Homo sapiens: one gene and its partners. The protein of the gene in region 1 interacts with the protein of each later gene in a pairwise test. Each region holds a gene or a part of one and is shown in the gene's direction. Other genes may lie near its edges. The genes, in order: PRKG1, FAM124A, PPP1R12B and RBAK.

Region 1 (7,040 bases):
TTCATGATGAGAGTTTTACTTTTACTCATTGTAAAAGCAAGGTATGAGGATTGTTCAAAAGTTAAGCAATTCAAAAAGTAAAAAGAAGTAAAAATCAACTAAAAATCTCCCTAAGGAAAAATCATTGTTAACGTATTGATGAACACATTTCTGATTGTCTCTTCATACATTTATTTCACATATAGATGTGTGTGTATATATATACATATGAATGTATATATACACACTAACATACGAACACACTGTGAGATCATAAAATGCATGCTGACTTGTAATCAGTATCTTTTATTCATATATATGTCTTGGTTATTTTTCCGTAATGTTAAATATAATTCTAAGTCATCATTTTTACAGTTGCATTGCATGGATATACCATAATTTATTTTTCAAGCTCCTCCTCTTGCTAGAAATTTAGATTGTTTCTAAATTTTTCCATTAGAAACAATGTTGAATTGAACATTCTTGAATGATCTTTGGGAAGTTGTTGGTTTATCAGAAGATTTCTGATGAATATGTTACTTGGGCTTTATGGAAATAATTAACTTCAACATTCTCCACTGTCTCTGTTGAGTTAGCTCACACCAGTGGTCCTCAGGTACCCTGACTTTCTGGTTAAGATCCTGAGTTCTGTGAGTCTTGTAGCATTCTGGTTTAAATTGGAAGTGGAGATTCTAAGGGCCCTGCTCTAAGGAGCTCATGAGATCTTGTATAGAGTCCAAAGAAGGAAGATGATTCTAGACCCAAGGACTGGTTCCATGCAAAGTAAAGGCAAAGCAGAAAGCCTCAGTAGGTTAGCAGTATAGTTCTATAAACTTTTTGTAATTAATGCTTTTTAAATTGGCAACTAGTAAGCCTGACTCCCAAGAATTTCTGTTGCTTTCTGTAGCTTTTACCTATCTCTTATGACATCTGCCACCCACCAGTTCTCATTATCCTCTTTCTACCCCACTTGGCTTCTCCTTGCAGTATTCAAGCAATCGGGTATCTCAAACCCCTAACACATGGAGGTCCCTGGGAAGTGCCTAGGAAAATGTCAGTGAGGCTTTGGCTGTTCTCCCAAATCACATGCCTAGCATAAGTTAAGCTTAAAGGTAATAGAAATATTGTTCAGTTTATCTCACAGTCCATGAGTTAGTCGATTCCGTTAAACTCTGATTTGCAAAGTATCAATCACTATGCATTTAATTGGTTTTGTATTCAGCTGAAGGGAAGCAGCATATACTGGAAATAGCTTGGGCCAAAAAAAAACCTGAACATGAATCCATTTCTGCCACTTGATAGCTCTGTGACCTTGGGAAAGATAGGAATCATTTTTGGAAATCAGTTTGTTCCTCTGAAAAAGCAACATTTGATTTGCCCTATTCAGTAGAGATTGCTGGGTACAAGCAGAGTCCATCAATGAATGCCCATTTGGTGGTGCGTTTTCATTTAGGATCATAATAACTGTGGTATCTGGTATTATCCTCAGCTAGAACTAGGGCTCAGAGCAGTTAAGCAACTAGCCCGAGAGAGACTAGTTGCTTAGACTGAGAGGGACTAAGTGGAGTCAGAATTCAAGTCCAGACCTGTGACTATAAAGGCTGAATTCTTTCCTCCTACCCTGTGTACAAGTATAAAAAAAAAAAAATCTGTGTATCTGTGTTATCATCACTAAAGAGAATCATTTTTATAGTAGGCATTTTTGAACAACTGCACAACAGTCCTCACTAGTTTAACTGGGAATGACTCTGAAGAGGGAATATGACTTTACTTCTTCTTCTCTGAATTGTAGTACTCTAACATAGCTCATTTTTCATGCCATCTTCCCTAGCTTTCCAGATTTCTTTTAGAAGTGAGTTTTCACATTTGGTGTTTTATTTTGAGTTACTACTGAATTTATTTGTAGCACACTAATCTGTCATCTTTGAGTTTCACAGCCAGAGTACAGGGTCTTTGGCTGTTAAAAGCATTTTCAAATACCCATTTTTCCCTCTACCTGTCATACTGATTCACAATTGCTGGCAGCTAACCGAGGCCCATTTATTTGCAGTATCTTCATGCTCCCTCCTAAGGAACTTGCCACATGAATATCTTCGAAGATTGAACTCAATCTGTACATGTGTGCAGGAACAAGACACTTAAGACCTTCGCTATCCCTGCTGATGAAGCAGTAAATAATTAACGACTAAAGAGGGGACAGCCATACTTCAGCTGAAAAGCAGAAACAGCATGCCATGTTATTTCCCCAAGGTTACATTACTCCCAAATAATATGGGCTGTTTGGTATCATCTTGAGGATTCTGCTGCTTGAGAGCACTAGATGATAATGTCCTTACATTGCTTTTAAGTAATTAGCTCTATTACCTCTCTTGTTTTTGTTACAAGTCACCTTCTTGAAATTTCTTGTAAAACCATAAACAGCACCCTGTCTGAGTAAGGCATGTGGAAGATCCATGCCTCCTCTGGAGCCACTGGGAGCCATGAGGGCTGCAAGAGAGGCATGGCACATTGAAAGATATTAAGCCTCCAAGTCTTCCCAGTTATTAGAGAGTAAAGTTTGAGGTCAAAGGAACTAAAGCCATCATGCTTGTTTGAGAAGAAAAACAAACGGTTTTCAAAATCTCCTGAAAAAATCTTGTTACAATTTTTTTTCTCTTTAAACTGTAGGGAGGGAAAATTCTGCAAGGTTAAAAAGAAGAAATGAATACAGTCAGTACTGAAGAAATAACAGTCTGCAGTCTCAGCAGAGACTAGGGTCCACCACTCAAGCTAAAAATTAGAAATGTTAACAACAGGTGCTGGAGAGGATGTGGAGAAATAGGAACACTTTTACACTGTTGGTGGGACTGTAAACTAGTTCAACCATTGTGGAAGACAGTGTGGCGATTCCTCACAGATCTAGAACTAGAAATACCATTTGACCCAGCCATCCCATTACTGGGTATATACCTAAAGGATTATAAATCATGCTGCTATAAAGACACATGCACACGTATGTTTATTGCGGCACTATTCACAATAGCAAAGACTTGGAACCAACCCAAGTGTCCAACAATGATAGACTGGATTAAGAAAATGTGGCACATATACACCATGGAATACTATGCAGCCATAAAAAATGATGAGTTCATGTCCTTTGCAGGGACATGGATGAAGCTGGAAACCATCATTCTCAGCAAACTATCGCAAGGACCAAAAACCAAACACCGCATGTTCTCACTCATAGGTGGGAATTGAACAATGAGAACACATGGACACAGGAAGGGGAACATCACACACTGGGGACTGTTGTGGGGTGGGGGGAGGGGGAAGGGAAAGCATTAGGAGATATACCTAATACTAAATGACAAGTTAATGGGTGCAGCACACCAACATGGCACATGTATACATATGTAACAAACCTGCGCGTTGTACACACGTACCCTAGAACTTAAAGTATAATAATAATAAAATTTTAAAAAAAAGATAAAAAAAATTAGAAATGTTTGTGGATTAGAACTAAGGAGGAAGAATATAAAGGCCCATATAACCCTATTTTTGGCCATCTTTACTGAAATAAAATTGGAAAAGAAGTTTTTTTTCTACTCTTTTGACAGAAGAACTATAAAATGTATTCAAACACACTCTATGACATGAAATAATAAAACTAGAACTAAGTACATTTTCCCTCTTCTAATCCACACGTGAACACAATTAATTTGGAATCAAGTTAGTTAAAATTCAGCCAATTCAGAGCATGAGATTGGATGATAGCTGTGAGCCCTGGATGTTAAACGCAGCTCTACCAAGGATTTACTGTGTTTTGACTTGGGAGGTGGCTGAGGTTCATTTAAGTGCGCCATGTACCTGTTAATTTGGGGATAATAATGCACTCTTACAAGTCTATGGGCTTTTTCTTACTCTCTTCTCTCTTTCTTTAAGGTCCAGTTGAAAAGTGAAGAATCCAAAACGTTTGCAATGAAGATTCTCAAGAAACGTCACATTGTGGACACAAGACAGCAGGAGCACATCCGCTCAGAGAAGCAGATCATGCAGGGGGCTCATTCCGATTTCATAGTGAGGTAAAGGCTCCATGCCAGGGACAGACGTACCCAACTCCAAGTGACAAATCCACCACAAAACCCTCTGCCACTTGTGCTCACTGTTAACACATTTCGTATGCACAAAGAAACTTCTTTTTAATCTAATCTTAAGAAAGTTTTGTTTGATTTCTAAAAATAAAGTTCTGACTCTATTCTTTCTTTTAAAGAGAATTAGTGTCTGAAAACAATGTGTTTTCCCAAAGGAGGTACCAGAGTTTCTAACATTCCATTTTTATCTTTTTTTAAATCCCCAAACTCTACATAGACCTTTGATGCTTAAAAGACAAAATATCCAAAATCAAACTATTTAACCTTTAATTATCTGAATATTTTTTGAAGATCTAAAAAAATGAAATGACAGCTGACCATTCCACCTCAGTACTAATAAATGGATAATGGGGAGATTTTTATATGTGGAAGCAGCTTTTTGTAGTGAATTTTCCAGTGGCATTTACTGAAAACAAGATGTAACATGAATTTGAGCGAATAGCATATGAAATTTATACATGTCTGAATCTGTAAAGTTTAATCCACTTTATTCCCATTTTCACTGCATGTTGATGACCACTAAATGTTGCCCCAAGGGTCTATGCTCAAAACATTACCCAAATTGGAATGGAAAGAATCCCAAGAAACCCTCTTTGTCCATAATCATTATGATTAATCCATTTCAAGGGAGAGATTAGCGCCTTAGTTTCTTCTATTAAAATCCTATTCATGAGCCATTGGCTTCTTTTCCCCATGTGTGGGCTTAGATCTCTCTCATTCTGACAAAATTTTGAGCTTGGCAAATCAAAACTATAATCTGGGCCCCCCAAAATTGCACACTTGTAAAAGACAGTAATGTTTATAATCTTTGTTTTCTTGTTTGCAATTTACAGACTGTACAGAACATTTAAGGACAGCAAATATTTGTATATGTTGATGGAAGCTTGTCTAGGTGGAGAGCTCTGGACCATTCTCAGGGATAGGTAGGAGATTTAAGAAATTTCTATGATATCTCTAAAAACAGTTGCCCATGTTGGTCTATAAGAAGAGTTAATATGATAAAGTATAATAATCATATTTATAATTTACACATGCTTATATTTCAATATTTAAAGTAAGCACAGGGCATAACCCACTATACACATATGATTTACTGTACATATAACAAAACTCACTTTGTAACTAACAATACAGGCTTAGTCGATCATAAAAATGGTACATAGCAAAATATATACATGGCCTTAGTTTTGCATGAATGTTAGAATTAGCTCTGTAGCTGGAATTCAATTCATTGCTTTAGCAGAAAGAGAATTATAGTTATTTTATAATTATAATTTGAATTAACTATCAGTTTAATTGCTCTACTCTTTTTCCAGATAGGCAGTTTGCCTTTTGTGACATTGTGAATTTTTTCCAAAGTAATTTTTCCCTCTACCTTTACATGGCTCTTTGGTTTCAAAATTAACAAAAGTTTCCAGCCATCTCTTTATCCCTTGGCTAGTCTTAGGAAAAAGAAAAGAATCCACTTATAAGCAATATTTCATGTAAATTATCTGATTTAGATTTACCTTCTTACCCTTCCAGGGCAAGGAAAGTTTGTCTACATGGTGCTTGTTTGTTCTAATCATGCAAATTCATTGTCTTAATTTTCCATCTCATATTTAGATAACTAGCAAATTATCTAATTATCTTCTAATATAATTTATCCTATAAAATGTCTCAGGAGATCATTATCTACCCTGTGTTTTTTTAAAAACACACTTTTATTTTCCTATGAATAATCTTTTGATTATTTTCCATGAATGATTTATTGATCATACAAAAGTCATCTTTGTTCTTTTGAACACTCACATTTAGACATCTGTATTTTTCTTATTTGTTTGAGTCCTGCCTCCCAGACTCTCCTTCACAGGGTAGCATCCTTCTGAAACTTAGCTATAGGTAGCCCTGATGTATATAACCATGTAATGTTTTTATATTTGTTACTTTGCAGATACCCCAGAATAAAACAAGTGGTTCCTTATGAACTGTTGATTTAAATTCTCATTCCTAATGGTGTTCTTATGGTACCTTCATATCTTTGTACAACAGGCCCTTTCGTGTTATTCCCATGGCCTTTCTTATATATGCCAAATGGATTTCTTGTTACCACATTGTATCCTATTGCATCGGTATTTTATTTCAATTCTTAAATTTAAGGTTAAAAAAGCATAAAAGGGAATGTAATCATGTTGGCATTAGGCGATAAGGTTAACATCTATACTAAGCTATTATATCATAGTGTATATATTATGTATTATTGCTAGTTAATATGTACATAGAGATTATATACCAGGCATTGTGATAGAGGCTGGGGATCCAGTAATAAACAAAACAGATGGGGTCTCTCTCCTCAGAATGTATAGTTTGTGGCACAAAGTTAATATTTTAATCTGTGAGTTAACATTTGGCATATCTAATGTGTTTCTACTGTATTATATTTGACTTGATATTTCAATTCACTGATTTATTTGAAGTCTTCTACTTTTTTTTCTAATTAGAATAGAAGAAGATTTACAGGTGGAATTAAACATGAAAGCAATAATAAGCCACAAAGGGAGAGCCCAGCTATCCCTCTTATAGCTTATTATTTTTTTATTTTTTCATAAGTTATTGGGGTACAGGTCATATTTGGTTACGAGTAAGTTCTTTAGTGGTGATTTGTGAGATTTTGGTGTACCCATCACGCAAGCAGTATGTACTGCACCATATTTGTAGTCTTCTATCCCTCACCCCCCTCCGACTCTTCCCCCCAAATCCCCAAAGCCCATTGCATCATTCGTATGCCTTTGTATCCTCATAGCTTAGCTCCCACATATCAGTGAGAACATGTGATGTTTGGTTTTCCATTCTTGAATTACTTCATTTAGAATAATAGTCTCCAATTTCATCCAGTTCCCTGCAAATGCTGTTAATTCATTCCTTTTTATGGCTGTGTAGTATTCCATCATA
Region 2 (3,382 bases), on another chromosome or scaffold:
TACCACCCACTCTTAGCTGGGGGGTGGTATATCTCTAGAGACACAGCAGAAAAATACTGGCATTTTTATGCAAATAAATTCTCAACAAACTTGTCATAAAATATATTTTTTGAATATTCAGCATTTGAGGTATGGTTTAGTGGGTTTATACAATTTAAATGGCTTATATAATTATTTGAAATGAAAAGAAAACCTAGTCAGCCAGAACCAATTTGGCAATTTTTCCATGGTATGAAGGCAAATCAATTAAGGCCAAAACGTTGAATGTGGGAGAGATAGTAAGTGACTTGTATGAGGGATTACTGCATAATAACGTAACGCACACCTTACTGGATTCTCCATATATATTTACATTACCAGAGAACAGTGGCCCTAGGGATGTTTAAGCACTGCTTATAATGGAAAAAGTCAGCTTGAGAAGTAAACGTATATCAGACTACAGGTAATTCCTCATCTTGAAGCCATGCAACACCTGCAAATCTGGATTTATACAAAAGTTGCTAATGTGTTTCATAAAGATTTAGCATGAGTAACAGACTCTTGGTGCATTTAAAATATGTGAGTTCCAGAAAGTAGATTTGCATACACCTTTTCAACAGCACATTTCACTGGAATGGATGAGGGGCTTCTGAAGACCACTCCACTACCTGAATTTATTTGGATCACTGAGGAAGAGCATTTGTTGGGATTACAGAATTATAGGCCATTAGACATCATGGGTAGGTAGTCTTAAGATCCTTCAACTTTCAAAAACCACAGTCTAAGGACTATATTCAAATGACAAGAGCCGCACTGTATACTGCTTTCTGCAGTGACCATGCTGGGTCACGCATCCTATGTTTCTCATTTTTAAATGATTTGGAACATTTTAGCCAGCATTTTGATCACACAGATTAATAATGCTGTTCTCCCCAAAACGGGAAACTTTACCTGAAACGCTCTCCTGAACAAACACCAGTGCACTGCCAGCCTCACATGATTGCATGGGAGCTTTAATTAACGCTGGAGCCCAGCAACCTTGGCTTTTCCTGCCTGTTATCTGCTACTGTCACACCGTGAATGGTATTTGAATCTCACCTCCCTCTCACCTCAGTAAGAGTATGTTTGTTTACAGCCCCAACCTCAGCAATGCCAAAGGCTGGCATCGGGGGCAGTGCCAAGCTGTCCCTGGATACTATTTACCTTTGAGGAAGAACAGCATGGGTTTGCCAAGCTCAATTCCCAGGCTGGTGCTCCTTGAATTAATCATGGCACAGTGTTCATCTCTCTGGAAATGCCCACGCCAGCCCAGACACAGCCTCAGAGTCCTTTCCAACACGACCCTCCAGGCAGCAGTTACCAACCATCAGTCTTCAGCTGAAGCTTCAAGTCTTTGCCATCCTTGTAATGACAGCCTTAGGCCTTGCCCCAAGCATTCTGGACTCTCTAACACTCAGAATTGTAATGTAATATTCTGCTCTAATTTAAATTTTTAAAAATATAGTCTCCTAATTCAGGATAAGGAGTAAGCAAACTTTCTGAAAAGGGCTAGATAATAAGTATTTTAGGCTTTGCCAGTCATATGGTCTCTTGCAGCTACTCAACTCTGCCACTGTAGTATGAAAGCAGCCATGAGTAATATGTTAATGAATGGGAATGGCTGAGTTCCAATAAAGCTTTATTTTTTTTTTATTTGAGACGGGGTCTTGCTCTGTTGCCCAGGCTGGAGTGCAATGGCGCAATCTCAGCTCACTGCAAGCTCTGCCTCCTGGGTTCAAGCCATTCTCCTGCCTCAGCCTCCCAAGTAGCTGCGACTACAGGTGCGCACCACAATGCCTGGCTAATTTTTTGTATTTTTAGTAGAGACAGAGTTTCACCATGTTGGCCAGGTTGGTCTCAAACTCCTGACTTCGTGATCCACCCACCTTGGCCTCCCAAAGCACTGGGATTACAGGCATGAGCCACCATTCCCAGCCAATAAAACTTTATTTACAAGAACAGCTGGTGGGCCAGATTTGGCCCAAGGGTCATAGTTTATTATCCCTTGAGCTAGGCTGCTGCCTGAGGTTGATTCAACATCCCAGCTCCAGTCAACAACAAAAATTCTAAGTCTCCCGCCTAATGCTGCTGTGGTGTGTCATGCCAAAAAAGTGGGCTACTCAGGTTAGACCAATGACTTCAGAACCACAGGGCTCAGAACAGGAAGGAGCTTCTTTCTGCAGAGCTGATTCCTGGAAAGCCACCAGCACTCCACCTTCTGCCCAGAAATGTGATTCAGTCAATAGCTGATGAGGAAAAGCAACCTGCAAACATTAGGAAGAAGGAGAAAAATAATTCAGAGGTGATGATACCACCTCCAATGAACAGGGAAGCAAGTTCATCAGTAACAAAAGTCAGTGAGGCAAAAAAAAAAAAAAAAAAAAAAAAAAAAGGCTAATGGCCGAGGGCTGGCTCCTTCTTTCTCCCTAATCAGTGTCCTTATTTCAGTGTGCTCACATGCTCGCCTAGGACTGCTTTAGAGTACAACTCTGGACCCGCCCTCATCACAGTCCAATCTACCAAACTGAGTGACCCTAAAGGACATCATAGACAACATTTGAAAGCAAGAAATGCAAAATGTTCCCATAGCATCAGGTGAGCAGGGAGAGGATGCCCACTGTAGACCACATGGAAATGGCAGTCCCTCCACGGAGAGGGAATCACAGGAACACATTTACCAAAGCCTTCCCTTCCATTCCTGGCCATTCCAGTAGCATCTTCCTCATCCAGAAGGGCTTCCAATACTCTCTGGAGGATCCTGACTCGTTTGGAGTATTATCCTTGTAAAAGATGCTGGCACATTGTAGGTGCTCAATAAATGTGTTCAATTGAAAAATATTGAGGTTGTCTCATAAATTATATCTATGTATTAGGCTCTGTAGTGTAAGAAGTCTAGATTGTAGCCCTGGTTTTTTGTCGCTTAATGGAACCGTGTCTCTTGTTTCCTTGGCCTTACGCTTCCTCCAGCATTGCCAGGGAGGGGATGTGTTGGTAAGTGCTCTGGTTGAGTTACATCCCATCCCTCATTTGCCTCTTTTCCAAGTAAGATCCCCTCAACCCCAAATTACTGCTCACGGTCCCACTTTGGCCTACACTAAACACCACCTAGTGTCTGCTTTAAAGAGCAAATCTTTCTCTGTCTGTCCCCAACTCACCTGGCAAGTCCTACAGAAATCATCTTGGGTCACCTCAACTGGTTAAAAGGAGCATAAGAGGAACTGGTGGAAGCAGTGGGTGAGCCACTGCAGAGACTTTTGTGACATGGGAGGGTTGATGTGTGCTTGAATAAATTGGGTTTTAGTAGTGGCTGCTCCTTGAGCCTCCGGGTCTGAGGGCAGGGGAACAGTCACAGCAGAGTGAACTG
Region 3 (7,040 bases), on another chromosome or scaffold:
TACAAGCACGATATAAATTATCTGGATAATTGCTTCTTTTCTCTCTTTTGGCCATGGCCACTTGACCAACTGTGGATTATTGTCTTGGCATGTTAGAAGCCCCCAGATAATACTGGGGGACAATTTTTCTCCTCCTACAACGTCACAGTAGATGATTTGCACTGCAGCTTGTGGTGCCTTGATGCTTCTTTTGGACTTAGAGACCTTCTTTCTTGGCAGCCTTTGCTGAGACCACGAGGTGCTTGAGTCAAAGATAACAAGCTCCAGGGGGCCTATTAATAATACTTGAGTTAGACTGGGATAAGAAGTATCTCAAAGGTTAGACCAACTCTGATGAAAGCCTTGGAAACTGATGCAGACTAAATTTCAGTGACTAAATTAAGATTTGGTGTGTATGCATGTGTTGTCCTAGAGTCCTTAACAAGGTATTAATCTGATTATAGAACCCTTGAAAGCACTTGTTTGCTCACAAAGGAATTTCTGTTTCATTTGCGTATACACATTGTAAGGCCAGGAATATTTGTTAATAATTCTATGTGGAATAGTACTTTAAATTTTTTCTTTTATTTATTTATTAAGTTTGACTGTTAGCACCTATCTTGATATCCTTAGCATTATAATCTTAGGTACTCTAGGCCTAGATACATGATATCTACCAAATTATTGCTGTGGGAAGAGGCAAGTGCCTACTTTCAGAAAAGAGATTTTTCTAGGATTTATTAAAATGAATGCTTACTTACTTCAGCATGTATTATGTTGACTCTTAAATCTGTGCTGAGTGTGGTGAGGGATGCTGGATTTCAGTCACCATAGGTCTTGTCTCTTAGCACGGTCTGATCAGTCTTCATCTGGAGGGCTACCAAGGAGATTAGAATAATTCCATACTTGACTCAGAAATTCACACTGGCGGCCGGGGGTGGTGGCTCACGCTTGTAATCCCACCACTTTGGGAGGCTGAGGCAGGTGGATCACGAGGTCAGGAGTTCGAGACCAGCCTGGTCAACATTGCAAAATCCCGTCTCTACTAAAAATACAAAAATTAGCCTGGTGTGGTGGTGCACACCTGTAGTCCCAGTTACTCGGGGAGGCTGAGGCAGGAGAATCGCTTGAACCCAGGAGGTGGAGGTTACAGTGAGCTGAGATCACACCACTGCACTCCAGCCTGGGTAAAAGAGTGAGACTCCGTTTCAAAAAAAAAAGAAAAAAGAAATTCAGACTGTCTTTGTAATGTGCAGGGTCCAAATTTGGACCCTCAAGGTCACACCAGACTGGAATTCAGTTTGTAGTTGAATAAGCCTTTGTCATTCTAGAGTTGCCTCAGTCTGACGCTGTAGACTTAGGGAGGCTAAAATCACGTATTTCTCAGGAAGAGAGATGGAGATAGGAACAAGTGAGGGGAGGAGGATAGGCTGAGCAATTTATATTCAGACAGAGACAGAAGATGAGTAAGATGAATGTGTGTTCAGTTCAATATAAAATAGTATATTTTGTGTGCTAACTCATATGGTAAAATAAAACTTGTGCTTTTAACCTTTTCTCTTTTATTCTACATTTATTACTCATTCCTCTCCTGGTTCCACCTGCGAAGTTACTTTTGCCTTACCCTGAATATTGATGAATTCTGCTTAGTGTCAGGACCCATGGCAACATAGGATTCAGAAAAATCCTGTTTGCTCCTTTATTATTGTGCATCTAGAATAGTCATCTATCCTGAGCCATTTTAGTAGCTTACCTCTTCAAATTGCTTAATATGTTGCATCAGACTATGTTGGACCTCAAAGCCATATTGGGAAATTCAGCTTTTTGTCTGTGTGGTTTTTTTTTTTGAAAGTATAAATAAAAATGACTTTCATTTGTTCCGCAGAATTTCTTCCCTATTCTTCTTCTTTGTGTGTGTGTGTGTGTGTGTGTGTGTGTGTGTGTGTGTGTGTGACAGGGTCTTGCCCTGTTACCCAGACTGGAGTGTGGTGGTGTGACCATGGATCACTGCAGCTGCAACCTCTCAGGCTCAAGTGATCCTCCCCACCTCAGCCTCCTTAGTAACTGGGACTACAGGCACACCCCATCATACCCAGCTAATTTTTAAAATTTTTTGTAGACAAGGGGGTCTCACTATGTTGCCAGGGCTGATCTTGAACTCCTGGGCTAAAACAATCCTCCCCCCTCGGCCTCCCAAAGTGCTCGGATTACAAGTAGGAGCCACTATGCCTGGCCTCTCCCCAATTCTTCAACTCCTGCTGAATAACTGTATATCACCATTTGGGCTTTTAGAATCTTCTACTCTGTGAGTATTTTGAAATAGGCAACCTGTCAATATATATGGATTAAGCACAATTCTGCCAAAGGTAAGGAGTTGGACCAGTCTTGTTGTTAACATAAAACTAAGTAGTTTATTTTTTTCTTTTAAAATATTTTAAAACTAAGATATACTTTATATACAATAAAATTCACTCTTTGTAGTGTAGCATCGTATGAGTTTTGACAAATGCGTACAGTTGTGGAACCACCACTGTAATCAAGATGTAGAACGTTACCCTCAAGATTTTTTGTGCTCCTTGGTAGACAGCTCCTCCCACCCTCAGCCCATGACAGTCATTCATCAGTTATTTTGTCCCAATAATCACAATAGATGGAGGCTGAGGCAGGAGGATCACTTGAGCTCAGGAGTTTGAGACCAGCGTGGGCAACATAGCAAAACCTTGTCTTTACAAAAAAATAAAATTAGCCAGGCATGTTGGTGCATGTCTGTAGTTGCAGCTACTTGGGAGGCTGAGGCGGGAGGATAGCTTGAGTCCAGGAACTGGAGTTGCAGTGAGCCATGATCGTGCCACTGCATTCCAGCCTGGATGACAGAGTGACACCCTGTGTCTATAAACAAACAAGAGCCACCATGCCTGGCCTAGAGTAAAGTTTTTGATATTTGAATAATATGCCATTAATTACATGTGTCCCATTCTTTTTTTTTTTTGAGACAGAGTCTCGCTCTGTCAGCCAGGCTGGAGTGCAGTGCACGATCTCGACTCACTGCAACCTCTGCGTCCCGGGCTCAAGCAATTCTCCTGCCGTAGCCTCCTGAGTAGCTGGGATTACAGGGGGGTGACACCACGCCTGGCTAATTGTTTTTTTTGTTGTTGTTTTTTTTTTTGAGACGGAGTCTTGCTCCGTCGCCCAGGCTGGAGTGCAGTGGTGTGATCTCAGCTCACTGCAAGCTCTGCCTCCCGGGTTCACGCCATTCTCCTGCCTCAGCCTCCCGAGTAGCTGGGACCGCAGGTGCCTGCCACCATGCGCAGCTAATTTTTTTTGTATTTTTAGTAGAGACGGGGTTTTGGGCGGGTGGATCACGAGGTCAGGAGATCGAGACCATCCTAGCTAATTTTTGTATTTTTAGTAGAGACGGGGTTTCACCATGTTGGCCAGGCTGGTCTTGAACTCTTGACCTCAGGTAATCCACCCGCCTCAGCCTCCCAAAGTGCTGGGATTATAGGCGTGAGCCACCATGCCTGGCCGTGTTCCACTATATTTTTCTCTTTAGAGGTTTTCTTAGATTCTTAATTAACAACTAATATTGAATGTCTAAATGGTAGATTGTAAGTCTGTACTAGAGTATATATGTGGTATAATTTCTGCCCTCAAGGAACTAACAGTCAGGTTTGGAAACAGATAAATAAAAAAAAGATTCCTTTTAGAGTTCCAAATTCTATGATACCCTGGAAAGGATGTATTCCTAAGTGGAAGGACAAACGAAGGCAGTCCAGGATGGTAGAGCAGCATGGGCGAATAAATAGGAATGGGTGTGGTGTGTAGGCAGAGGATGCTAGGAAATCCTAATGGATGTGTTTGAAGGGTTAGAGATGAGAGAGAGTCAGGGTGACATCCTAGAGGGCTTTGAACATCAAACATCAGGCCAAGGTGGCTTGATGGACTCCTTAGTAGAGAATTTTTGTGGGTTTGAGCAGGGTCGTTACCCAACCAAAGCAGTATTTTAGGATTCTGAAGCAGCACTTGGATTTCTGAATGAATGGAGAGACAGAGTTGAGAGAACCAGCTGAGTGAATGGAGATGAGAAAAAAGTGTAGTACAATTCTAGCTTGTGAGTCTGAAAGAATTGTGTTATTCAGGTAGAAATAGTATTCAGTCAACGATTAGACTGAGGTACTCTGAAGACGTACAAATAGAAATCTCCTATAGGTGTTTAGCATGGTGGCCCATATCTGTAATCCCAGCACTTTGGGAGGCCAAGGCGGGAGGATTGCTGGAGACCAGGAGTTTGAGACCAGCCTGAGCAATGTGGTGAGACCCTATCTCTCCAACCCCCTCCCCACCCAAAAAAAAATTAGCCAGGTATGGTGGTGCAAACATGTGGTCCCAGTTACATAGGAGGCTGAGGTGGAAGGATCACTTGAGCCCAGGAGGTTGAAGCTGCAGTGAGCTGTGTTCACACCACTGCACTCCAGCCTGGGTGACAGAGCAGAGCAAGACTGTGTCTCAAATAAATAAGTAAGTAAGTAAGTAAATATCCTGTAGGTATCTATGTGACTCAAGGCTAGTCACTTTCCTATCTATGCTCCAGTTTTCTCATATTTGAGACAAGAGACTTGATTTTAGCATAAAGGTGAGAGTTGAAGTAATGAGTGTGAAAGAGGAAAGGGAGAAAACATACAGAGAAGAGCAGAAAACACAAGCAGCTGGTAGGCAGAGAATGCAGAAATTCAAGTTAGAGCTGTTGGAAGATGTGGTAGGCTGACTAATGGTGCCCCAAAAATGTCTAAGTCCTAATCCCCAGAACATGTAAATATGTTACCTTACAGGGTAAAAGAGACTTTGGGGATATGATTAATTTAAGGATCTTGAGATAAGGAGATTAGCCTGGATTATCCAGGTGAGCCCAATATAATCACAAGCATCCATATAAGACAGGCAAGAGAGCAGAATCAGAATAGGAGATGTGATGAAGGAAGCAAGAGATTGCAGGGATTCCAGGAAGGTTCTGTGAGCCAAGGAATGCAGGTGGACCCTAGAAGCTGAAAAAGGCAAGGAAGTGGATTCTTCTCTCAGAGCCTCCACATAAGGAACCAGCCCTGCCAGCAATTTGACAACTCAGCCCAATGAGACTGATTTCAGACTTTTTTTTTTTTTTTTTGAGACTGAATTTTGCTCTTGACCCCTAGGCTGGAGTGCAGTGGCACAATCTTGGCTCACTACAACCTCCGCTGCCCGGGATCAAGCGATTCTCCTGCCTCAGCCTCCTTATTAGCTGGGATTACAGGCGCCCACCACCACAACCAGCTAATTTTTGTATTTTTAGTAGAGACGTGGTTTTGCCTTGTTGGCCAGGCTGGTCTCAAACTCCTGACTTCAGGTGATCCACCCGCCTTGGCCTCCCAAGGATTACAGGTGTGAGCCACTGGGGATTACAGTTGTGAGCCACTGCATCTGGCCATGATTCAGACTTCTGACCTCCAGAATGCTATGATAATAAATTTGTGTTGTTTTAAGCAACTAAGTTTATGGTAATTTGTTATAGCAGCAATAGGAAACTAATACAGAGAAGAACCGACAAACAGTGATATTGAGGTATTTCAAGGAATGGATGGTAAATAATGTAAAAGGAAATTGAGGAGAAGGCCTGTAAAAAGACTGTTGGATTTGGTCATTTAAACTTTGAAAGAGCACTTTCAGTAGAGATATTTTTGAAGACTTTTGTGGAGGTTATATGAAGTTTTTTTTTGCATTAAGGATAACTTGTCTTTCTGTTGACTTTTGGGAGAAAAAATATAGATTTTCCATCAATATAATTGTAATTTAAATGAGGGCCCAAAATATGTGGCAAGACACTTTAAAAGCTGAATTCTGGCTAGTTCAGGTGGTTTCATTATTCATCAGTTAAGAATATTTTAGGATATTAAACCTGATAATAGGGGCAAGAAAGTTATGTCCCTATTACTGATGGCTGCTTATCTAGTTTATTTTACTTCTCAGTCTAGTTTGGCCCATTTCCCACTCATTAGCACTTCCACTGGAAGGCAGCCTTGGGGGAACAGTGATAGGGAGGTTAGTACCAATAAACAGTTTTTTCTGCCATTCTCTTACATTTATTTCTTGAGTGTCTACTGTGTATCTGATTCTGTGCTGCTTGTTACTTTTACTTAGCAGTAGATACAATTTAGAAACTAACTTGAATTTTGGGATTGGTCTCCAGAATAGTTGGTTACTATTATAACTTATAATAGGAAATTGGCTACATAACCGATTTCTGTTCTAGCATTCTGGCTCTTGAGGAGTGTCAGGGGAGTACTATATTTATCAGTATTTGAGACTATTTTATGCTTATGGAGGAGAATTACATATATATCTTCTCTAAGATGGTGAAATATGGAGGTTTGGGATGTCTAATAAATCTTTAATGGTTCAACATAGTAATAATAAATCCAGATTAAGACCTTGGCCCAGAATGTCATATAGGACAAGGAATTGAAGCCTCATTTGGATTGCTAATTGAGTGCTTGCCCAATTTGTTGATGTTGTTTTTGTCTGTGAATATGTTGGGGTTTTTCCTGCTTTTGAAGTGTCATTTAAAAAAATTGTTTCTTCTGATCTTAGATTGTAACCAGTTTGAGTAAAATTTGGGGGCTTAAAGTTTTATCAGGCATGCAGAGTTTATGTTTGTTTCATGAGGCAATTCAATTGAAAAACTGAAGCTTTGCCCAGGCGCGGTGGCTCACGCCTGTAATCCCAGCACTTTGGGAGGCCAAGGCAGGCAGATCACGAGGTCAGGAGATTGAGACCATCCTGGCTAACACGGTGAAACCCTGTCTCTACTAAATATACAAAAAATTAGCCGGGCGTGGTCGCACGCGCCTGTTGTCCCAGCTACTCGGGAGACTGAGGCAGGAGAATCACTTGAACCCGGGAGGTGGAGGTTGCAGTGAGCCAAGGTGGCACCACTGCACTCCAGCCTGGGTGACAGAGCGAGACTCCGTCTCAAAAAAAAAAAAAAAAACTGAAACTTGAGTTTTCAGTATTGGAAATTGACTTGCATG
Region 4 (7,040 bases), on another chromosome or scaffold:
GGTACATCTTCCATCACCAGAGCAGGAGGAAGAGGGAGGGGGAGGCGCTACACACTTTTAAACAACCACGTCTTGTGATAAGTCACTGAGTGTCAGGAGAACAGCACCAAAAGGGAAATTGCCCCCATGATCCAATCACCTCCCACCAGGCCCCACCTCCAACATTGGGGATTACAATTGAACATGAGATTTGGTTGGCGACACAAAGCGAAACCATATCACCATCCATGACATCATTTGCATTCATTATAAGGAGAAACCAACTTTGTTACTTGTGGATTTAAAAGATTTTCTAGGACTTGGAAAAATTTCTTCATTCAAGTTGATATAATTGCGGATAGCTTTCCTAATAACAACCATTAAGTTACCATAACTTATGGCTTATTCTTGGTGCTTATGTAAGCAGAGGGCCTGCCTGCTGCCCAAGGAGAACTTGGTGCATATAATTTTTCCAGGGAAGGAAACATTGTGATCCCAGTAGACAGAATTCTGTTTTTACTGTTGAGTCCTAGATCATGGGGGGAATGAATGACATGATCATCCTTCAAATATTTGTTCGTCTTTCAGTTTGGGTTGCACAGCAAACAATACAGTTACTCTCTTGTGAAGATTTCCTCATTTCTGTTTCTCATTTCAGTTCTCAGTGTTTTAGTTTTGTCCTTTTCACGTTGCTGAGTCAGTCTGTAAAGATTACCAGTGATTTCATTGCAGTCAAATCCAGAGGGGATTTCCTAGCCCCTACCTCCCAGGACCCTTTGTCTGCCTTTGACATCTGTTACTTCCAAACTGATACTTTCTCCATGGAGTCTCTCTTTTCTTGGCTTTTAAAAAGATTCGTCTGTAAGTATTTCTGCTTGTCTTTAAATGATGAAGTCTGTTTTGTTTTGTTTTGTTCTGTTTCTTTTTTTCTTTTTTTGAGATAGGGTCTTGCTGTGTCACCCAGGCTGGAGTGTAGAGACGTGATCACAACTCACTGCAACCTCAGTCTCCTGGGCTCACACGATCCTCCTGCCTCAGCCTCCTGCATAGCTACAGGCGCAAGCTGCCACACCCGACTAATTTTTTTATATTTTAGTAGAGACTGGGTTTCACCATGTCACCCAGGCTGGTCTTGAACTCCTGAGCTCAGGCAGTCTGCCCGCCTCGGCCTCCCAAAATGCTAGGATTACAGGCGTGAGCCACTGCTCCCAGCCTAGAGATGTATTCCCACTGTATTGCTCAGACTGGTCTCAAACTCCTGACCTCAAGCAATCCTTTCACTTTGGCCTCCCAAAGTGCTAGGATTACAGGTGTAAGCCACCACACCTGGCTAATAAGGAATCTTTTTGAAAGGGGCTAGGAATAACCCATAATACTCTCTTAATACATGTGGCAATTGGGTTAAATCTTTTAATAGTTCCTATATTATGTCTCTTGCGTGCTCATTGTTTTGAAGAAACTGGGTTGGTTATCCTCAGTTTGGATTGTGTTACCCTTGTTTCACCTTTAGCACATTTAAAAAATATATCTTTTATGCCTTGTTAAATTGGTAGTTTGATCTGGAAGTCTAATCAGGTTTATGTTCAATTCTTTTCACACAGCTGTACCGTACGTGGCATTTGTCTACTTCTGGAGGCATGTGTTACCTTCTTTGTTTTTGTGAACTTAAGAACTATTGACTGTTGATTATTGCTGTGATTTACTAGTTCATTAGGGGAGGCAAAATGGTGATGTGCTAATTCTACCATTTCTTCTTTATTTACTAGCCAAAATACCTTTCTTTTCTTTTCTTTTTTTGGAAACAGAGTCTCACTCTGTCACCCAGGCTGTCGTGTTTACGGCTCACTGCAGCCTCAAACTCCTGTGCTCAAGTGATCCTCCCACTTCAGCCTCCCAAGTAGCTGGGAGTATAGTCATGTGCCACAATGCCCAGCGAATTTTTTAATTTTTAGTAGAGACAGGTTTTGCTATGTTGCCCAGGCTGGTCTTGAACTCCTGGGCTCAAGTGATCCTCTTCTTTGACCTCCCAGTGTTGGCATTACAGGCATGAGTCACCACAGCTGGCCTAGAATACTTTTCTAAAGATAAATTTCTGTTCTCTATTTGGTTATGTAATTCATGCAGGAAAGACAGTTTCTAAAATGTTGAGTAGGCTTCTAAGCAGGAAGGTTTTTTTGTTTTGTTACCATTATGAGCTCGTGGGTTTAAACAGATAGTAAATATTTCAGTACATCAAAGTTGTGATTCTTTTTGAAAATTAAATGGCTCCATCTTTGGCCAGACAAAATCCCTTTAAGTTGGTTTCTGAGTCCTTTTGAAATATATTTGATATATTTGATAGCAAATCTATACATACAATATATATTTGATAGCATTATTTTCTGTTCAGCATTTTATTTTGAAATCATTTCAAATTTTCAGAAAAATTGCACGGATTTTACAAAGAAATCCCAGCTACTTCCTTTTGTTCAGATACTTCATTCTTAACATTTTCCCACATTAATCATTTATATGCATATATACATATATGTGTGTACATATTTTTATATATTTTTTTTCTGAACTGTTTGAGAGTGGGTATGATTTGTCATGCCTCTTTACCTTATAAAGTTTTAGATTATATCTCATAAAATCAAGAACTTTCTATTAAATACCCATAGCACAGTAATTGAATTCAGGAAATTTATCATTGATTTAATACTTTTATCTAAACTGTAGTTCATTTTCCAGTTTTGCCAATTTCCCAATAATTTCCTTTATAGCAATTTTTAATTTTTGGTAGAAGATTCAGTCTAGGACTGTCAATTGCCTTTAGTTTTCATGCTTTTTAAGGCTGTTTAATACGGATTTGTTCCTCAGTGCCATTATAATATTTGCAGAATACAGGCCAATGATATTATAGAAGTCTTTAAATTTAGGTTTCCCTGATCTTTCTTCATGATTAGATTTAGTTGGTGAATTTTTGTCTGGAACACTACATGGGACCTCTTAAATTTATGGCTCAGAATAGGATCTGTCTTGGGAAACTTCTGTGCATGCTTGAGAAGATGGCTTGTTCTGCTCTGGTTGGGTGGAGTGTTTGATAAATGTTAATGAGATCAAGTTGGTTGGTTGTGTTGTTCAGGTGTATTATATCCTTGTTGATTGTGTGCCTACTTGTATCAATTGTTGGGGAGAGGGGATTGAAATCTGCTGCATTTGTGGTTCTCTTTCTCTTTGCAATTTTACCACTTTTTGCTTTATGTATTATATTAGATACATAAATGTTCAAGGTTATTACATCCTGTTGATTAATTAACCACTTTGTAAAATGGCCTTCCTTATCCCTGCTAGTATTCCAGGCTGAAATGTACTTTGTTATTTATGTAGCATTCTTTTGAGTAATGCATGCATGGTATATCTTATTCCATCCTTTTACTTATAACGTATTTGCATCTTTATATCTAAAGTATTATTTCTTGTAGGCAGCAAGATTTGGATCTTGCTTGTTTTCATCAGTCTATTTCTGCCTCATAATTGGGGATGTATAGACTGTTTACATGTAATGTAATTATTGATAAAACTAGTTAGGTTATAGTCCATTGCCTTTGCTTTCTTTTAGTCTCATCTTCTTTGTTTCTTTTTAAAATGTCTTTGTTTGTCTTCCTTCCTCTTGATTAATTGATAATTTTTTATGATTCTACTTTATATCTTTTGTTGAGTTTTTAGCTATCACACTGTTTTGTTATTTTAGTGAGTTAGAATTTATAGTATGCAACTTTAATTATCATAGTTTATTCTTAAGTGATATACCATTTTTCTTAGAGTAAGAGAAGCTTACAATAGGATACTTTCATTTCTCTCCTCTTGGTCTTTACACCGTTGTTCATTTTATTTTTACAGGTGGTATCAGTGCCACACAGAATCTATTACGTTGTTGTTAATTAAACAGTTATCTTTGATTGATTGATTGATTGATTGATTGATTGATTTTGAGTTGGAGTCTCACTCTGTCCCCCAGGCTGGAGTGCAGGGGTGCGATCTTGGCTCACTGCAACCTCTGCCTCCCAGGTTCAAGTGATTCTCCTGCCTCAGCCTCCCGGGTAGCTGGGATTACAGACACCCACCACCACACCCGGCTAATTTTGGTATTTTTAGTAGAGATGAGGTTTCACCATGTTGGCCAGGCTGGTCTCAAACTCCTGACCTCAGGTGACCTGTCTGCCTCAGCCTCCCAAAGTGCTGGGATTACAGGTGTAAGCCACCACACCCAGCCCAGTTATCTTTTAAAAAGATTTAAGTAATGAGAGAAAATACACAGTTACCATTTCTGGTACTCTTCATTCCTTTGTGTAAATCTAAATTTTTATTTGCTGTCATTTTACTTCTGCCTCAAGGACTTTCTTTAACATTTCTTCTAGTTGATGAATTCTTGTACGTCTGCAAATGTCTTCATTGTGTCTTAGCTTTTAAAGGTGTTTCTGCTGGATATTTCTCCACAGTGCTTTAAATATGTTTCTCTATTGTCTTCCTGCTTACATTTTTTTCTAAGAGAAATCTGATCTCATATTCATCTTTGTTCCCCTGTATATAACATGTCTTTTTTTCTTTCCCCCCTTATGTTGTAAACTTTTTATCACTAGTTTTGGGTAATTTGATTGCAATATGTCATGGTATCATTTTTTTCATGTTTCTGTTTTGGGGATCACTGAACTTCTTGGATCTTGGGTTTATGGTGTCATCACTTTGGGAACATTTTTATCATTATTTCTTCACATACCCACCACCTCCCCTCCATTGATTCTTGTTGCCTGTATATTAGGCCACTTGAAATTTTCCCACAACACACTGTTGCTCTTTATTTGCTTTTAATTCTTTTTTCTCTGTTTCATTTTATGTAACTTCTGTTGCTGTCTTTATATTCACTAATCTCTTTTTTCCACGATGCTGTTAATCTTGTCCAGTATAATTTTCATCTCAGATATTGTAGTTTCTATCTGTAGAAGGTTAGCGTGGGTCTTTTTTACATCTTGCCTGTCTCAATTTTTTTGAACATGTGGAATAGAATGATGAACTCTCTCAGTGCTCTGTGTGGGTTGTAAACTCTGTCAATTCTGGGCCAGTTTTGATGGACTGATTCTTTTCTTCCTTATGGTTGTAATTTCCTGCCCATTTTCCCATCTCGCAACTCTTACACCTCACATCTGTCTCTGTTCTTCTTCCCTGCTCTGTGGCCTGGAAACACTCAAGGCAGAAGTTGATTGGTTCACCTTGTTTATTTCCCATCACTCATAGATAACTCTACTGCCTGATAATCAGTGCCTTGAAAACCATTGCTTCAGCCCGGGCGTGGTGGCTCATACCTGTAATCACAGCACTTTGGGAGGCCAAGGAGGGCAGATCACAAGGTCAGGAGTTTGAGACCAGCCTGGCCAACATAGTGAAACCCCTTCTATACTAAAAATACAAAAATTAGCCAGGCATGCTGGTACACGCCTGTAATCCCAGCTACTTGGGAGACTGAGGCAGGAGAATCGCTGGAACCCGGGAGACGGAGGTTGCAGTGAGCCAAGATTGTGCCATTGCACTCCAGCCTAGAAGACAAGAGTGAGACTTTGCCTCAAAAAAAAAAAAAAAAACCATTGCTTCATATATGTTCTCCGTTTTATTTTTCTTTCTGTTTTTGATTTTGTTGTTGCTGCTGTTCTTTGTTATGTGCCATTTCAGGTTGGAGGGTATATCCAGTACCTGTTAGTTTATCACAACTGAGGGCAGAAGTCCTCATGTCTCTCTCTATATATATTTTTTCTAATATATATATTTTTTTCTTTGTAGAGACAGGGTCTTGCTATGTTGCCAAGGCTGGTCTCAAACTCCTGGCCTCAAGCAGTCCTTCTGCCTCAGTTTCCTGAGTGCTGGGATTACAGGCATGAGCCACTGCACCTGGCCTGGATCCAGTTTTGTCCATGTCCAAATGGTGTTTTTCCCTGAGCTGTTTTTGATTTTCTTCCACCTCATATGAACTGTAGTGTCAGCTTATCTAGTTCCAGGAAAAAGCTTTTTGGTATTTTTACTGGGGTTGCATATTTATAAAGTAATTTAGGGTAACTGACTTACCCTAGGTAGGGTAAGTTGACCTTAATAATACAACTAATTTTTTTTGTTTGTTTGTTTTTTAGTAGAGATGGGGGTTTCACCATGTTGACCAGGCTGGTCTTGAACTCCTGACCTCGGGTGATCTGCCCGCCTCGGCCTCCCAAAGTGTTGAGATTACAGGCGTGAGCCACCGTGCCCGAGCACTTTTACTTTTTCTTAGTTATATTCCTCTAATTGTTTTATCTTCTCTAATTGTAGATAATGAGCATTTTATTAATACCTTGTTCTTGATCTTAGTAGGAAGGTATGTAGTTTTTCCCTGTTAAGTAAAATCCTGACTTTTGGACCGAGAAGACTGAGGCATAAATGTGTGTGTGTGTGTGTGTGTGTGTGTGTGTGTGCGTGCGTGTATATACACACAAACTGTATATATATGTGCTTGTGTGTAATTGAAATACATATGTCACATATATATCATACATACTATTGCATATTAGGGTGCAATATTTATATTTGTGTATATACATGTTATTGATGTTAATGAAGTATCCATCAGTTTCTATTTTCTTTAGTTTGTTTTTTTAAATCAGCTTTTTCTGTCAAGCTTTTTCAGGTATCTTCACGGATACAAGATTTTTCTTCTTTGCTGTGTTATAGTGGCTTATCATATTAATAGATTTCCAAATATTAAACTAGTCTATATTATTGGAATAAGTCCCATTTGGCTATTGTATATTATGTTTTTAATCTGGTACTGGATTTTGTTTGATTATGTTTCATTTTGGGTTTTTGTATTGATGTAAGTGGTATTGGCATGTAATTTTATGTTATTTATTGGTTGATCAGTCTTCTAACCCCTACTACCTCCTTGCCTTCTGGACTAACTTAACCCAGAAGGTTATTACTCTCTCTCGGTGATTTTATCAGCTCCTGTGGCCTGACTGTGGATAAGCTTGGATGTTCTGCTTTAGTTTCTCAGCCCACAG

What was found.
Region 2: the proteins of PRKG1 (region 1) and FAM124A interact in binary tests that used the Homo sapiens proteins (3 or more experiments, as listed by UniProt).
Region 3: the proteins of PRKG1 (region 1) and PPP1R12B interact in a two-hybrid assay, tested with the Homo sapiens proteins (one study listed by BioGRID).
Region 4: the proteins of PRKG1 (region 1) and RBAK interact in binary tests that used the Homo sapiens proteins (3 or more experiments, as listed by UniProt).

Annotation. Positions count from the first base shown.
Region 1 is NC_000010.11:52,267,450-52,274,489, forward strand, and holds part of PRKG1 (cGMP-dependent protein kinase 1), read left to right. Parts: intron 1-3,900; coding exon 3,901-4,040; intron 4,041-4,942; coding exon 4,943-5,032; intron 5,033-7,040. UniProt on the Homo sapiens protein: Serine/threonine protein kinase that acts as a key mediator of the nitric oxide (NO)/cGMP signaling pathway. GMP binding activates PRKG1, which phosphorylates serines and threonines on many cellular proteins.
Region 2 is NC_000013.11:51,281,386-51,284,767, forward strand, and holds the end of FAM124A (protein FAM124A), read left to right. Parts: 3' UTR 1-2,854; downstream 2,855-3,382.
Region 3 is NC_000001.11:202,351,699-202,358,738, forward strand, and holds part of PPP1R12B (protein phosphatase 1 regulatory subunit 12B), read left to right. Parts: intron 1-7,040. UniProt on the Homo sapiens protein: Regulates myosin phosphatase activity. Augments Ca(2+) sensitivity of the contractile apparatus.
Region 4 is NC_000007.14:5,048,826-5,055,865, forward strand, and holds part of RBAK (RB-associated KRAB zinc finger protein), read left to right. Parts: intron 1-7,040. UniProt on the Homo sapiens protein: May repress E2F-dependent transcription. May promote AR-dependent transcription.